Linked DNA regions of Homo sapiens: region 2 is linked to region 1. The links come from fine-mapping of genetic effects on gene expression. Tissue or cell type: cerebellum. Region 1 holds a variant in brackets; the other region holds the start of a gene. All regions are shown on one strand. Distances are from middle to middle.

Region 1 (8,000 bases):
TCAGGGAGATAGAAGGATGAATAGGTGAAGCACAGATGACTGCTCGGGCAATGAAACTACCCATATGCTACTAGAATGGTGGGTACATGTCACTATACATTTGTCAAAACATAGAATCTACAACACAAAGAGTGAACCCTAATGTAAACTCTAGACTTTGGTTGATAATAATGTGTCAACCTTGGCTCATTAATTGCAAAAAATGTACTGCACTGATGGGGGATGCTGATGGTGAGGGAGGCTGTGTGTATGCACTGGGTATGTGTGTTGTGGGGTGGTTGGGAAGCGGGGAGTGAGTATGCAGAAACTCTGTATCTTTCAATTTTGCTGGGAAGCTAAAAATTGCTCTTAAAATAGTCTATTAACTTTACATATAATATATAATATATTGATGTGGTTTGGCTGCATTCCCACACAAATCTTACCTTGAATTGTAGTAATTCAATTATCACAGGGGCCAGGTGGAGATAAATGAATCACGGCAGTTCCCCCATACTTTTCTTGTGGTAGTGAATATATCTCACGAGATCTGATGGTTTTATAAATGGGAGATCCCCTGGACAAGCTTTCTTTCCTCCCGCCATGTGACACGTGACTTTGCTCCTCATTCACCTTCCGCCACGATTGTGAGGCCTCCCCAGCCATGTGCAACTGTGAGTCAATTAAACTTCTTCCCTTTACAAATTACCCAGCCTTGGGTATATCTTTATTAGCAGACTAATAGATATATTAATATATATAATTTTTCTACACATGAGCATTTAAAAAATGTCTTTGGGAAGGGGTAAAAAAGACAGATGTATATCCTTAATGTAGATGCTGAAAAAAAAAAGACAGATGGTAAAGATGAGAAAAGATAATAAAAATTATGCTTCAGACCCTTAAAAAATGTCTACCATTTGCCAACCACATTAAAAAAAAGAAGAGGCTGGGTGTGGTGGCTCACGCCTGTAATCCCAGCACTTTGGGAGGCCGAAGCGGGCGGATCACAAGGTCAGGACTTCAAGACAAGCCTGGCCAACATAGTGAAACCCCATCTCTACTAAAAATACAAAAATTAGCCGGGCATGGCGGTGCGTGCCTGTAGTCCCAGCTACTCGGGAGACTGGGGCAGAAGACTCACTTGAACCCGGGAGGTGGAGGTTGCAGTGATCACACCACTGCACTCCAGCTTAGGCAATAGAGTGGGACTTCGTCTCAGAAAAAAAAAAAAAAAGAAGAAAGAAGAAATAATAATAATAATAATAATAATAATAATAATAATAATAATGGAGTCTTTCTATTAAAGATGAAGGGTGGAAGCCATCCATTTAGCTCTATTCAACCCTGAAAGCCCACCAAAAACTCTAAGGGGGCACAAACGAGAACAAAGAAGATGGGAAAAGAGCTACCACTACTAAACGTTGGAAGCTGGAAAGTAGATAGATGACTTATAACTAAATGAACAGACCCAAGAAAGCTAAATCCAAATCTGGCAATGGAAAAAACCTAAAAACTACCTGGTTAATTCAGAACTCTCAAAGTTTTATGAACTGATGGTTTGGATACCTTTGGAAGTGGAAGTGATAGGATGGAATGGATGTTAGGGAATCAACCGAAAATATATGTTATACATAATGATTTTATCAGAAGAGTATTCCCTATATTTTGGAATGATGTATTTCTATCAACTTTCTTTTGAAAATTAAAATTTCTAAAAGTTGTGTATGTAACAAACAATACAGATTGTGGTATACCACAAGCCAAAATATGGAAGCAGAATACAAGCTAATGGCCTATGGCAGAAAATGTGGTTTGCATAAATGTTACCCATTGTCACAAACATCCACCCATCCTGCGCTGCACACTGTGCTACTTCATGCTCCTTCTCTTGTGGACTTCTATTCTCTTTCTCCAGGTTGAAGGGAAATCATCCACATACCTGCTGAGATGGTATCAACCTCAACCTGTCTCCTAGCAGAGGAGACAATATGAGCAAAGCATTGTTTGGAGAAAATCAAGTAGCTTGATGTTATTGCAACAGAAAATATGAGGCTGAAAATAGTGTGAATTAAAACCCTAGATTTGGACCAGAGTGAAACCACAGAGGGCTTTGTGGGATGTTGAGGAGCTTGAACTCAATCCTGTGGCCTTGGCAGTTACTTTGCAGAGACGTTGATGTGGTTGGATTTGGGTTTCATTTCAGTCACACTGGGGTATGTGGAAGGCAGACTTGAAGCAGGAAGCCAAGCCAGAGACTGGTGGTCCAGGCGAGCGTCATAAGGCCTGAACAAGAGCCGAGATGACAGACTTAAGAAGACATAGATCTGGAAAATATTTGGAAGGTCAAAATATGCTAATCTGATGATTTGTTGGATGTAGGAGGTGTGAGAGAGTAAGGCATCAAGATGTTCTTTAGGTTTCCAGCCTCAGTGACAATAAAGGGAGCAGTTCTGCACAGCAAAGGAAACAACAACGTGAAGAGATGACCCACAGAATGGGAGAAAATAATGTGCAAACTACCTGACAATGGATTAATAACTAGAGTATATAAGAAGCTCAAATAACTCAATAGGAAAAAATCTAATAATCTGATATAAAAGTGGGCAAAAGATTTGAATAGACATTTCTCAAGACACAGAAATGGCAAACAGGCATACAAAAAAGTGCTCAACATCGTTCATCATCAGAGAAATGCAAATCAAAATGACAATGAAAGATCATCTCACCCCAGTTAAAATGGCCTTTATCCAAAAGACAGGCAATAACAAATTCTGGCAAGGATGTGGAGAAAAGGGGAACCCTGATAAATCAGTACAACCATTGTGGAGAACTGTCTGGAGGTTCCTCAGAAAACTAAAAGTAGAGCTACCATATGATCCAACAATCCCACTGCAGGGTATATACCCAAAAGAAAGGAAATCAGTATATCAAAGACATATCTGCACTCCTGTATTTGTTGCAGCAAATACAGGCTCTTGGCTGTTCACTACAGCTATGATTTGGAAGCAACCTAAGTGTCCATCAATAGATGAATGGATAAAGAAAATGTGGTACTTATACACAATAGAGTACTATTCAGCCATAAAAAGAATGAGTTCCTGGCCAGGCATGGTGGCTCACGCCTGTAA[C/T]CCCAGCACTTTGGGAGGCCAAGGCGGGCGGATCACTTGAGGTCAGGAGTTTGAGACCAGCTTGGCCAACATGGTGAAACCCTGTCTCTACTAAAAAAATAAAAAAAATTAGCCGGGTGTGGTGACAGGTGCCTGTAATCCCAGCTACTCAGGAGGCTGAGGCAGGAGAATTGCCTGAACCCAGGAGGCAGAGGTTGCAGTGAGCCAAGATCATGCCACTGTGCTCCACACTGATGACAGAGCGAGACTCTGTCTCAAAACAAAAACAAAAAACAAAAGAATGAATTCCTGTCGTTTGCAACAACATGGATGGAACTGGAGGTCATTATGTTAAGTGAAATAAGCCAGGCACAGAAAGACAAACATTGCATGTTCTCACTTATTTGTGGAACCTAAACATCAAAACAATTGAACTCATGGAGACAGAGAGTAGGATGGTTACCAGAGGCTGGGAAGGGTAATGGGAAGTGGGAAGGGAAGTCGGGATGGCTAATGGGTACAAAAAAATAGAAAAAATGAGTAAGACCTAGTATGTGATAGCACAACAGGGGGACTACAGTGAATAATAATTTAATTGTACATTTTAAAGTAACTAAAAGAGTATAATTGAATTGTTTATAACACAAAAGATAAATGCTTGAGGAAATGGATACCCCATTTTACACGATGTGATTATTATGCATTGCACGCCTGTATCAAAACATCTCGGGTACCTCATAAATACATATACCTACTATGTACCCACAAAAAATAAAATTTAAAAAATTAAAAAGTACATCAACTGAACATTTATTCAGTTAAAGCATAGTGCCATGTGTTTCCGGGATGACAGAAGTAATTAGGGCTTCTTAAAGTCTTTGAGAACCTTTAGCACAGTTGAGCAAAAAAAAAAAAAAAAAAAAAAGAACAATTACAAAACAATATATTAGAACAATTACAAAGTACTATATTAATGAAAAAGTGAACTCGTGGAAGTTTGGATTTTATGCCAGATTAAAGAAGTGGCCATAAGTTGACATGGAGGAAATAAAGGAACAGATTGACTTCCTGTTTGGGGGACGCAATCATGAAGGGCACGGACATAAGAGCAAGCACATGCCATGTGAAGGTTGACAAGTATGGAAGGGGCCTTGCTGGGAATCAGAGATGAGACCGATGAGGTCTCATGGAAAGGGAGCAAAAAGAACACTTGAATATAGGAAACTGGATTTACTAGACTGTAGTTGACTACTGAAAATCATTTTAGATTCTTCAGTATAATGAAAGAGTTTCATGAAGATTTAAGCCACAGTTATGAATATTAGTTGAGTTTTGAGCTGGTAATCCTGGATCCATCTACTAAATGTCCAGCCAAACAGGATAGTTTCATAATTTATCATTCTTTTCTAATTTCTCACTGTCTATTTCTCAGAAAAGCCATGTCTAGCTTTGGCTCCTTTTGTAACTGTAGACATATTCTGGACTGAAGTGTTTCATGTCTGATCTACTTTTACCACTGCTCTATTCTCTTGATGCCAAAAAACCCCACAAATTTCATTTACTTTAGTGGTCAATGAGTATGGCAGATAAAAACATACTTTCTAGAGTGACAATGCTTGTGTTTTAGTCATAGAAAATTGGGGCAATATTTTTGTAATATATCAACGTGGTTTTCTATTTGCATGTCTATGTGCCTGACCTCCTCCATTGCCAGCCTGAGACATACCTCTCCCTGGCTGTGCCTCTGGATTGTTGCAGGAGAAATACAAAAAGAAAGTTGTACTCTCCAGCTTCTGACAGCCCAAAATTGGGTTCTCAAGTCTGCAGCAAGACAATAAACTTGAAACTCGGGCTTTTTAAAGGATTAGAAAGTGTTTATCTTCCACTTTAGCAGGTGGACTTGATCCTACACTTCGTATTATGGTGGTGGTATGATGGGGTTAATGACAAGAGAAAGGAAGGGACAAATCCTGCCCACCCGTTTCTGGGCTGGGGCCTTCAATCAGGGAACTGGGCCTTTTAAAGACACATGGAGCCCAACTTTGTCTCAGGGAGGAAAAGCCCTGAGGGAAAAACCAAAGGCAGAAGATGAGCTGCCCCACCGCCTGTTTGGGAGTCTGCAAGAGGGTTGCCTCTCAGGCCTGACTTGGCTCCAAGTAGGGTCAGCTGCGTTAAAATAAAGCAGTGCAGTTGATGAAAAAGGGCCGAGTTTAGCTCCCAGGTTTCTCCATAAGCTTTTGTGGTATGGAGAAGAAATTCAGAAGATCTTCTATGTTTTATGGAAAGAAGAGGGAGGTGGCTGAGGGTGCTGGCCAGTAAACTTGCCAGGGAATGGCACTGGGTTAGCAGCCAAATGGAAGTCCAAGGTAATCAGAGTTGCCATTAGGGAGATTCATCAGAGGAAGGAGGCTGAGGATTTTAGAACATTCCTAGGGCTGAGGAAGGAGACCAGGCATTCCCCTGGCCACAGGTTTCAGGAACTCACCATGCAAGCCCAGATGCTGCAGCAAGATAAGCAAGAAACCGGGGGACAGGGAGTGGCCTCAAGGACACCATGTCCCCTGCCTACCCCCAGGACACAGTCAGCCCAATGCCCTCCCTCCTGGGGCAGAGAATGCTTCTGAAAGGGCATCCAAAAAGAGATGATTTAAAACAGTACAGAGGAAGCCAAATTTTGATTGACTCAACATTTAAACTGAAACAACAGAGGCTTCTTAACCTTATTCAACTGACAAGTGTAGAAGACCCCATCATGCTGCTCATGAAGAAACTGCTTTAGTTCCAGAAAATAAGGGGATGCATGTGTCAATGTGGTCTGAGTCAAATTATAATCCCTTCCACCTGGCCCTGACATGTTCTGACTGTGTCACATTGAGACAGTTATGTAACCTCTCTAAGCGTCAAAATCCTCATCTGTGAAAAGGAGATCATAGTGTCTTCCTCTTGGGGAGTTTTAACGAGCCCATTCATGTAAATTGCTTAGAACTGTAGCTGATACATGATAAACTTTTTAAATGTGCTAATTTTGTTATCACTTCTACTTTACATTCAATGTCAAAGTTTCTTTTATTCTGTTCAAGAATGGCTAACTACATCTTTGTCAAAAAATGTCAAAGTACTGTATTTCTGACATTCTTCATTTATGATTTCAGAACCTCTAGTGCATTCCCACAAGCACAGAAATGCCATTCTGGGGATGAATGAGAATTACTGTTTTTATATCACCCTTGACTTTTTCTCAGCTTAGTAAACATCTTGGTACTCACCACAGAAATTACCTCCAAGCCAGGAAGATATTTCTTAAGAATAATGTTAGCTGTAACAAACTGCAGAGTAAAATGATGGAGGCATCTGTAGGACCTGGTGGTGAGCCTGCTCTGTCTTAGGCTGATTACTCCTAAGAGGAAGAACCAGCTATAGGCAATAGACACACCGCACGAATGGGGGAAAATGCAGAGGGGAGGATTCCTTTGTGAACCTGTGGGCAATTTTAACATGCATATCAGGACAGGACAGTGTCAGAGTGCTCCTGGCAAATTCCTTGTGATTAACATGGGTACATTAACTGTCAGAATTGTTTGCTGCTGAGTATTCAATAATAGATATTAACTAACCTGGGGCTCCATTCTAGCTCTTTCAGTTTTCTGTATCAACCTAGAGAACACCAAGGGGGCTTTAGCTGAAGCAGGAGAAGAGATTTCGTTAGAAAGGTTAGTACTGATTCTAGATAAACAAAATAAGTAATTTTTGAGTGTCTGTGATATACAAATTTCTAGGCTCTAAGCCTTAGGTAAACATGCATGTAAGTACTAAAAAGCACATTAAGCCTTAATATAGTAGAGTTCCTGGGAAATCCAGTGGTTTAAGTGACTTTTCCATGTAGGTAAAGCATATTCTATTAAAAAAAAAGTTAAGACATAAGAAATCTTCATATAAGTCAGATACCTCTTATTAAATGTCTATCTTCTAAAATAGAGCAAAATTGCCTTTTTTGATGGATCAGTCATCATCATGAACATCAGCTATTTCACGATGGTGCTCTGAGAAAGTATTTCTCAAGGTGTGATCTATGGATCCCAGAAAAGGAATTATCTGGGAGCCCATTAAAAGTCAGATCTCTGAGCCCCACCCCAGGCCTCCAGAATCAAAATCCTTAGGTAGAAGCCAGGATTCTCCACATCCAACTTGCTTCTCAGAGGATTCTTACACTCAACTCAGGCCAGAGAGGCCCTAATTCAGAGTGAGTTGAGATGTTCTTCACTGGAAATGTCTGCAGGGGGCCTGTTAATTTTCTGTGCCTATTTGCTGTAGGGCTTCTGCTACTTTCCTCTTATGACCGCAAACCTTTCAACAGTGACAGGCTTTAAACCTGTGGGGCAATTTGCAGAGGATCCTTTGCTGGATGCTGGCCTTTGTGATGTCTACTTTCCAACCATGAGCCTCAGCTTTGGGTCCCTGAGTTGAGCCTACTCTTGCAGGATTCAGGCGCCAGACAGACCCCAAGGAATTCAGGCTCTAGACCTGCCATTTCACCTCAAAAAACGACTCCCAGAATAAGGTAGAACAGAAATGTGAAACGCCAAACCCAGAAATGTGACTGGATGTTCAAGAGACAGAGAGATTGGTGAGAAGGAAAAAAAAAAGCCCAAATACTCCTTAAGGGTGCTTGGAACATGAAACACTGGGGTCAGAAAAACGAGTTCAGAGGACGTGGCATGTGCTGGAAGATGTGACTGCTACTTGAACAGGAAGCCAGGTCTCCTCTACCCCAGAAACCTTTTTTTCCAATAGTAACCTAATATCACACAAGGATCTGTTTATCGGATTGTAGTAATATGGGGCTGGAAAGCCGAGAAGAGCACTGACTCTAGAGTCAGAGGCTTGGGTTCAAATTCTAGTTCACACGTATGG
Region 2 (8,281 bases), 660 kb before region 1:
TCAACCCATTAGGTACCTACCAGACGATCTTGAATTTTATCTACAAGGGTTGGATCACTCAACAGTAAAGTGGGTTCACTGGATGAATCCCCAGAAATCAAACGAAGTTTGGCTTCATTGACTACCGTAGAAAGTGCAATGGTGATAAATGATATTCCTGAAATTCTGGCATCTTCAGAAATACTTTGAACATCTGGATTCTTTGGATGGTCGATGCCATCAGTCATCAGCAAAACCACTTTCACACCATCCTTACGCCCTTCTCTCTTAAGTAGCCTAGTGGCATTGGAAATGGCATAATAAGAGAAGGTACCTTGCCCTATTAAATTCATAGACTTGACCTTCTGCTTAAATGTCTGCAGGTCCTTCCAGGAAGAAAAAGGTGGATCAATTTGGACAGAGCTGCTAAACTGAAGGGCTGCCAGTTTGATGTCATATTCCAAGGAGCGACCAGGAGTCAATTGGAAAATCTTGTCACTCAAGCTATCCACAAAATCTTTCTGTTTATCAAAGAGGGCAATTTTAGAACTTTCAGAGCTGTCCACGATGAAGACAATATCTATGAAACAAATGGAGCCTGAAACAGAATAAACAGGTTAGGCAAAATAATTATTCCTATCATGAAACAAATTTGCATACGGAAAGCCCTGAAGTGGTGTGTTGTATATTGTTTGGTGTTGAGAGCAGCGTGAGGAGAGAAAGAGAGACACGTTGGACAGAAGGCTTCAATTGTAAAAAACTAAATGTCTAAGTTTATGAATTATTTTCTCCTTGTAAAATCATGCAAATTAAAAATAAATAAGATATCTTTTATTCTGAGCATCTTTTCAATGTTAAACCTGCTGAAAGTGGGAGGAAATGGGAAGTCAAGATGCATCACATTTTAAAAATCCAACTAACACTGAGCATAGTTGTCTAGAAGTAAATGATACTCTAATTCTCAGGTTGTGTCATATTGGTGAGTCCCTATTTTTTTTTAAACTTTCTTGAAATCAAGGGAGAAAATGACTATACCCCCTATACCAAGAGTAAGTGGAGAAGAAACCTAACTTAAACACAACTTAAGTTTAAATCCCAGCTCTGTGTCTCAGTGGTTAATTTGCCTATGGCCTTGAGTATGCCACTCGACCTGTTAAGACCTCAATTTTTTTAATCTACACTATGAGTGGCAATCTCCGTCCTGCCTATTTTACAAGGTTACTGTGAGGCTCAAATGAGATAATAAGTGCACAAGTGCTCTTATTAAAGACTCTGATGTGCTATAAGTATGTAAGGTATATTATCATCATATAATTTTATCAAAGTAGACTATCACATGTATACATGTATATGGCTTGCTATTTATATCAAATGCTATTTAGAAAAATTCACATAAGTATTTTTAACAGGCTAAACTTAAAAACAAACAATTTTTTTTTTTTTACCCTGGACATCACTTTTCCTTGCAAGCAAATTTGATTTTGGTCCTTTCTTTCTTTGTCCGGATACTGTTTGACTCGTAAACGCTGACAAAAGCAGGAGATAGAAGACAAAATATCTGTTCCACATTATGGTAGATGGTGAAAAATCATCTGTCTTGTAGCACCTTTAATAGAAAAGTCAGTTACAAATACTTTAATAAAATATGGTGTTTGTTATTTTTAAATTTCAAGCCAGCAGGGTTGAAAACTGGCATGTGACTGGAAAAAAGAGGTTTTCATTCATATTTCTAGAAAAATATTCACATTGAGATTTTGAAAGATTTCAATCCAAATAAATCATGGCACCATGACCAAACATTTATTAGTGAATATTTCTATATATTCAAAGAACTATATTTAAGTATTCTTAATTCCGCATTGTATTTTGAGGAGCATAGAGTTGGGAGAGCCATTTAAAAACATTTCAATCCCGCTCTATATGATTACTGTGGTTCAATCACAGGGTCTGCTTTGACATTTCCAAATTCTTCAGGGGGAATTCAGATTGCTATATGGTCATTTCATTCACTTTCATTATAACTGATTCCTGACAAATCTAGTATTTTGTAGAACTGTAGACAACCACCACCCTTTCAGGCTTAATACTACACACATAACTTCAGTGAGTTCAGAGGTCAAGGTAAAAATTAAACGACCCTTCTGTTTCCATAGAACCCCATCTCTCTTTTCTACCCTAGCTTTGGAAACTTTGTCTCCACCAGGGGTTCAAAGCTGCATATGCAATGAATCAAAAGAGTATGAGAGCAAAAATAATAGATTTGCTTAAAAGCAACACTCTTCTTCCAGTGATGGCTAAAAGAACTAATGGACAGAAACGGGACTTAAAGCCAAGAAGCACCCCCTCTGAATAGCCCCGTGAAACTATTTTTCTGGGTGGATTAACAACGAAAAATCTAATTCTGTATTAAAATCCTCAATCTTCATCAGTCAATATGCCTAGCTACACACCAACTGACTCTTAAACTGACAGATTTCCCTGGGAGGAGAAGACTCATGTGTTGCTGCCTCAGTATACCCAAGAGAATGGGAACGAGAAAGCTTATTTCGAATCAATACTTAGTATGGCTTAAAAATGCTTGCCTGCTGAAACTTTATTGACTTCAGGAGTTCTGGAAAAGGAATCACATTTTCCTTCTTTGGCACCTTGCCTTTAGGGGATAAGAATCTGGGAAATCATGAGCACGATTTTTCCAGACTCTGAGTAGAGAGTGGAAATATATGCAAAGGCAGTGAGGAGTGAGATGGAGACTGACTTTTTTCATACATGCCAGATGGATAAACCCCAAAGGGAAACAAAACTGTTGGGTTAGGAGAGGACCAATGGATGGCTTCATGCCACAGTCTGCTCCTCACATAGCATCATCCAGCTGGAAGTGTATTAAAAGAACTTTGGATAGGTATGACCAAACATCTTGTGTAGCAATTGGCCAAATGCCAACTGATCCTCAGACAAGGTATACTAAAATGTAAAGACAGCTGGGTATTAAAAACAAAACAAAACCAAGAAATGTGCTAAGGAAACAGAACACACAAAGGCCATCTCTCCTCAAGTTGTCCCTTTGCTAACCAAGGAAAAAAATAAATGATGTACAACTTTAAGTCTGAAGGTTAGTGTAAAGATAAGGCTATGTGAAAAACACAGTTGTTATTGCATTTTCAAAGGGGAAAGGGAATAACACCATGGCCATGGTATTACATATGACTTTTCTCTTTGGTTGAGTTCATACCATAAGGAACATCTCAGAAGTTCTGGAAATAAGAGGCTGAGAACTGAATTCCATTGAGAACTGAGCAAGATTTTATAAGCAACATAATCAAGCAACTCTTCAAAACCCTTCATGTAAGGTTTTAGAAATACTGGCTTTAAATAAAGATTTATCTTTTCCCAAAACTAAGCACCTGCTCTTACTGTTTTCTTGGCATATAATCATGAATTTGTACCTGATCCCTGTATATATGATATTCACAAACATAACTTTTCCATTGACAATAATCCCAGTATCTCATATTTTGTTCTTATTTGCTCTGACATTGTTAATCTAGCTCTCCCAAACCAAAGTCTTGTTATTTCTTTCTGTTTCCCTATTGTAGCCAGAGGACATTTTCATACCTCTCTAGATTTGTTTCTCTAGCTTGTTAGTTCTACTGCTTCCCTGAAATATCTTTCTCGTTTATTAATTTGGCATCTTGAGAGCCCACTCATTTCTAATCACTTTTTACCATGTTTTATTTTGCCTCTGTTTTTAATAATTCTCACCTTTCTCTCTTTCTGATGTCACGTACAAGCAAAATAGGTTTCAGAGGAAACAGTGCCATTAGTTAAGTGAAAGAAATGTGAACCTCTGTGTTTACTATAGGTTACATTTTATAAATGCAGAAACAATCATAATTATTAATCAAATACCGTAGTTTTACTTTTGGCCTAAAATTTATTTGGGGTAAATATCAGGATCAGTAAATAAATCCAAGATACTTTATTTTTTATAATTTTTCAAAAATAAAATGATCTTATATCAGAGTTCACCAACTTTAGTTACAATGTTTGCATCTCAGTTTCTACACAAATAGAAAATGATTGAATAAAGACTTTATTCAAATTGACAAATTAGCCAAGTTGTAAAGTATTCTATAACTAATTCTGAATTGTAAACCCTGTTCCAAATTAAGAAAAAGATGTCCTAAAATATATTAACATCGTTGTAAAACAATTTAGAAGACTGTAAATTAAAAATCCATTTCAAAATAATTTTAAGTTTTAAATTTCTACATTTTAACAATGTTAATATTTTTCTAATAATTGATTTGAAGTAATTGCAGAGAATACAAACTATTGACAAGCTTTCTCACCTAATAATTATGTAAGTAAGTCATTTAGTCTTCCACAGTTCCTTGATGGTCCTATCTGATTTCAAGTGACTAAAATAAATCTGTTATGTCTTACCTTATAAAGTTTGTCAAACAGGAATTAAAGACTAGTTGAGTAAATGCCAACAGCAAGGACTGTGGTTGGGGGTGAAGTTAGCTATTTGATATTGTTCTGTTCTGTGGGAAATAAAAGTGTCTTTGCTTTAGGATCTTTTGCAGTCTTTTGTTCATGTTTATTCGACTAAGTCAAAGCAAGAGTGGTCAGGCATTTGGCCAGGGTGCAAGATCTGGGTGGGATCAGTAAGCAATTTAAAGGAACAGTGTCCTTTCAGAATGAGACTGTGTTTTCCAGACTATTGTAAAAACAACTTGAGAGAACTTTCTACATTTTAGGCATTGGTTGACAGCCTGCCTTTTTTTCTCATGCTATGTCCTTCTCTTTTTATTGCTACATTTCTTTGCCTGGGGGATGTGCTCTAAGATACTGGTTCTGAACATCTCTGTGAAGGAGTATAAATGACACCAGACTCAGAATCAAAGCTGTTTTTTTAAGAGAGGTAACAGTTTGATTGTTATTAAAGCTGGATGATGAGTACATAGGTGTGCATTGTTCTAGTCTTTGTATTTCTGTGATTTTTGAAATTTTTTATAATAAAAGGTATATATAATATACAGGGAAAGAGTGGTCTGAGTATAGTCATAGTTCTGCCCCTAACTTTTATGGGGGCTTCAGTTCCCCACTTATGAAATGAGAGAGTAGATTTAATCATTTATTAAGATGTGTTCGAACTGTAACATGAGAGGTTTACAGCGGTTAATATTTTGGTCTCTCTCTAGGAAAGGATCACTGTGGTTTTTCCACTCCCTGTTTCCCTATTTTCTACCTTGTGGTTATGGTCCATATTAAGTCAATGTTTATCATGTAATATATACTGCCAAGAAGCCACCTGACCCCTAGACAGCTAACAGGCAGGCTTCTCCACGGACTTCCTCTGAAATAGAGAATAGCAAGATCATCCGAGAAAGCAATACAAATGTGCATGTTACGGTTATTTAAAATGAACTTTCTTAGCCATTTTAATGTGTATGAATTTCCTTATTACAGCAATAATAGCCTCCAATTCATGGACACTTACCAGGTGCTAGGCACTGTCCTGAGTGCTTCACACACATTACCTCATTTAATCCTTCACAAGCACAACCACCTATATACAGTAAGTCCTCACTTAATGTCCTCTGTAGGTTCTGGAAACTGTGACATAAAGTGAAACAATTGATAATGAAGACAATTTTCCCAAGAGCTAATTGATATAAATAAGAGTTAAGCTCTTATGGCATATTCCTAGTCACAAAAACATCACTAAACCTCTAAATACTCAAAACACCTCTAATAATAAACATTGAAATAAATCTAAGCTATATATACATTTATGAAAGATTGATAAAAACAAGATAACTGCTTACCTGCATATTCCAGTTCAGGGTCACGGTTGACCAGATCCTGTCCCAGCAGCTGAGGATACAAGGCAGGAACCAGCCCTGGACAGGATGCAGTACTGTCAAAGGGCACTCATACACCCACCCACTCTCTCAGACAGGCACCATGTAGACACACCAATGCATCTAATGGGCAAAGCTTTGGGATGTGGGAGGAAACTCCAGGACCTGGAGAAAACCCACACAGACATGGGGAAAACATGTCAACTCCACACAGTGAGCCTGGCCCAGGAATTGAATTTTTTTTCTCATCAATGTTATAACAAAATGACATTGAACAAAATATTATTCCAGGACCCCTTGTACTTAGTAGATGTTGTAAGAATTCGAATTTTTCCAAGATGGAGGCAGAGAGAGGTTCAGTAACTTGTCCGCTGTCATACTAAAACCAGAGAATGGCAAAATGAACTTTTAACTCAGGCTGGTAAGACCTGTGAGCCTCACTTATAACAACTACTGCATCATTAAGTATCTATGCGAACGTCTGTGTTTTCACTGTCTCCTCCTCACAAAACAGGTTTCGAGGAACTGAGGAAGTTTTGTGAGGCTTTGGTAACAGAAAGAAGAAACGGTGGGTATAATGCAGAAATAACAACGGAATTTCCTAGGGAACAACCATGTATTTACCTGATAGCCTATGGGTGTTAGTCACACTTTTTACTTTTGTAAGATGAGAATCAAGAGACAAGGAAGTAGCATCTTTTCAGGTCAACTCTCTTTTTGCTGAGGCAGGTTAAAAACATGCAGAATAATAATGCCACTAAGAAGCAAACAGGTGATTCCTAGATGGGGGAAATGGACTAAAGCCCTCCTGCCTTGGAGCTGTTTTGATTAAAGTTGGTGGGAGGTTGGAGTCCAACTTAGTCATCCATTCCCTTTCATTCTCCAACATTAAATAGGGTAACTCAAACCAAAGATTTGCCACCTCTCATTCTCAAGCGTGAAAATCAGCACTAAATTAATTGGGAAGATTATGCAAAATAAAATCTTCAGTTTCATCAATCTATAAAAGACAATTAGTTTTGCACCCAGAGAAACAATGCACCACAATCTTAATCCCAACAGATGGTCTTGAATTAGTATGCTATTGGACTTACACCAGAACAAATAAGAGAGCATGGATAACCATAATGACTAGAAAAAGGCAACGTGGAGCCCATGCCCTTCTGACAGTTATTTTGTAGTAAAAGTCTTTATGGAAGAAATATAGCACACTATTTTCATTGTTACTACTATAAATAGCCCAGAGTAAGCAGTCATATTTGTGAAATAAATGATTATTAGAAGTAATTTTTAGTGTTTATCAGTCACTTGAGGTCTGTGATACAATAAATTGCTCTTCTCCAAAGCTCTGCTAGATGAAAATCTTTTTTCAACTTTTTCAAATTCTTTTAATATGCTACCATAGTAGCATCTGCATTGTGTTTATTGATTCTAGTACCAGTGCCAACATCTTAATTTCAGTGGTGATGATATTTTGGGGTCCTAGAATCATTTAAAAAGAGACAAGTCTGCTAGGACTTACATATTTCAGAGAATTGTATCTGCATGAAGTCATAGAAATACACACAAAAAAAGGCTGGTAACAAATCAAAGTTATATATTTTGACCAAGATTAAGGCATAGTATAGTTTCACAAGCTTCTCCCTATTTTAGCCACCTCCCACACTGCTGATCTAGAGTAGAAAAAAAAAAACATTACCAACTAACAAGGAAGAAATTAATGACCTTCGTACCTGATTTGAAGAAATTTGTTCTTGAAGATCCTTTCCTTTCTTTCTTTCTTTTTTTCTTTTTCTTTCTTTCTTTCTCTTTCTTCTTTTTGTCAGTAGAAAAGCTTGATATAGTAGAATTTCTAACACCTGCCCCAAAGCTCTGAAATTTCTGGGATTCATTATCCTTGGACCCAGAATATGACCTAGGCATTCTCTCAACTCCTTCATCAGTAATTAGAGGAACACTGTCTTAGTCCATTTTGTGTTGCTATAAAGGAATACCTAAGGCTGAGTAATCTATAAAGAAAAGAGGTTTATTTGGCTTACAATTCTGCAGTCTATGCAAGAAGCATGACACCAGCATCTGCTTCTGGTGAGGGCCATTGACTGCTTCTACTCATGGCAGAAGGTGAAAGGGGACCAGCGTGTGCAGATCATATGGTAAGAGGGAGCAAGAGAGCAGGGAGAGAGGTGTCAGACTCTTTTAAAGAATCAGCTCCCCCAGGAACTAATACAGAGAGAACACACTCATTACCGCAAGGATGGCATTAAGTCATTCATAAGGGATCCACCCACATGACCCAAACGTTTCCCATCAGGCCCCACTTCCAACAGTGGGGATGAAATTTCAACACGAGGTTTGGAGGGGGCAAATATGCAAACCATGGCAAACACCAAAACTGTATTGGTCTTATTTGTCAACAAAGGGAAAGATTAAAAGCA

The links. PIP is the estimated chance that this variant, and not a neighbour inherited with it, causes the effect.
Region 2: it holds the start of COL28A1, and the variant in region 1 is fine-mapped to the expression of COL28A1 in cerebellum (GTEx, PIP above 0.99).

Annotation. Positions count from the first base shown.
Region 1 is chr7:8,196,347-8,204,346 of GRCh38, forward strand. The region is part of intron 6 of ICA1 (islet cell autoantigen 1); the gene reads right to left. Among named protein-coding and RNA genes, the nearest start is that of ICA1, 62 kb to the right of the region's middle. The variant C/T (reference allele first, on the strand shown) is at 3,111.
Region 2 is chr7:7,531,328-7,539,608 of GRCh38, forward strand. It overlaps COL28A1 (collagen type XXVIII alpha 1 chain), which reads right to left and starts at 4,546. Exons shown (of 35, transcript NM_001037763.3): 1 at 4,423-4,546; 2 at 1,425-1,585; 3 at 21-577. The coding sequence starts at 1,548.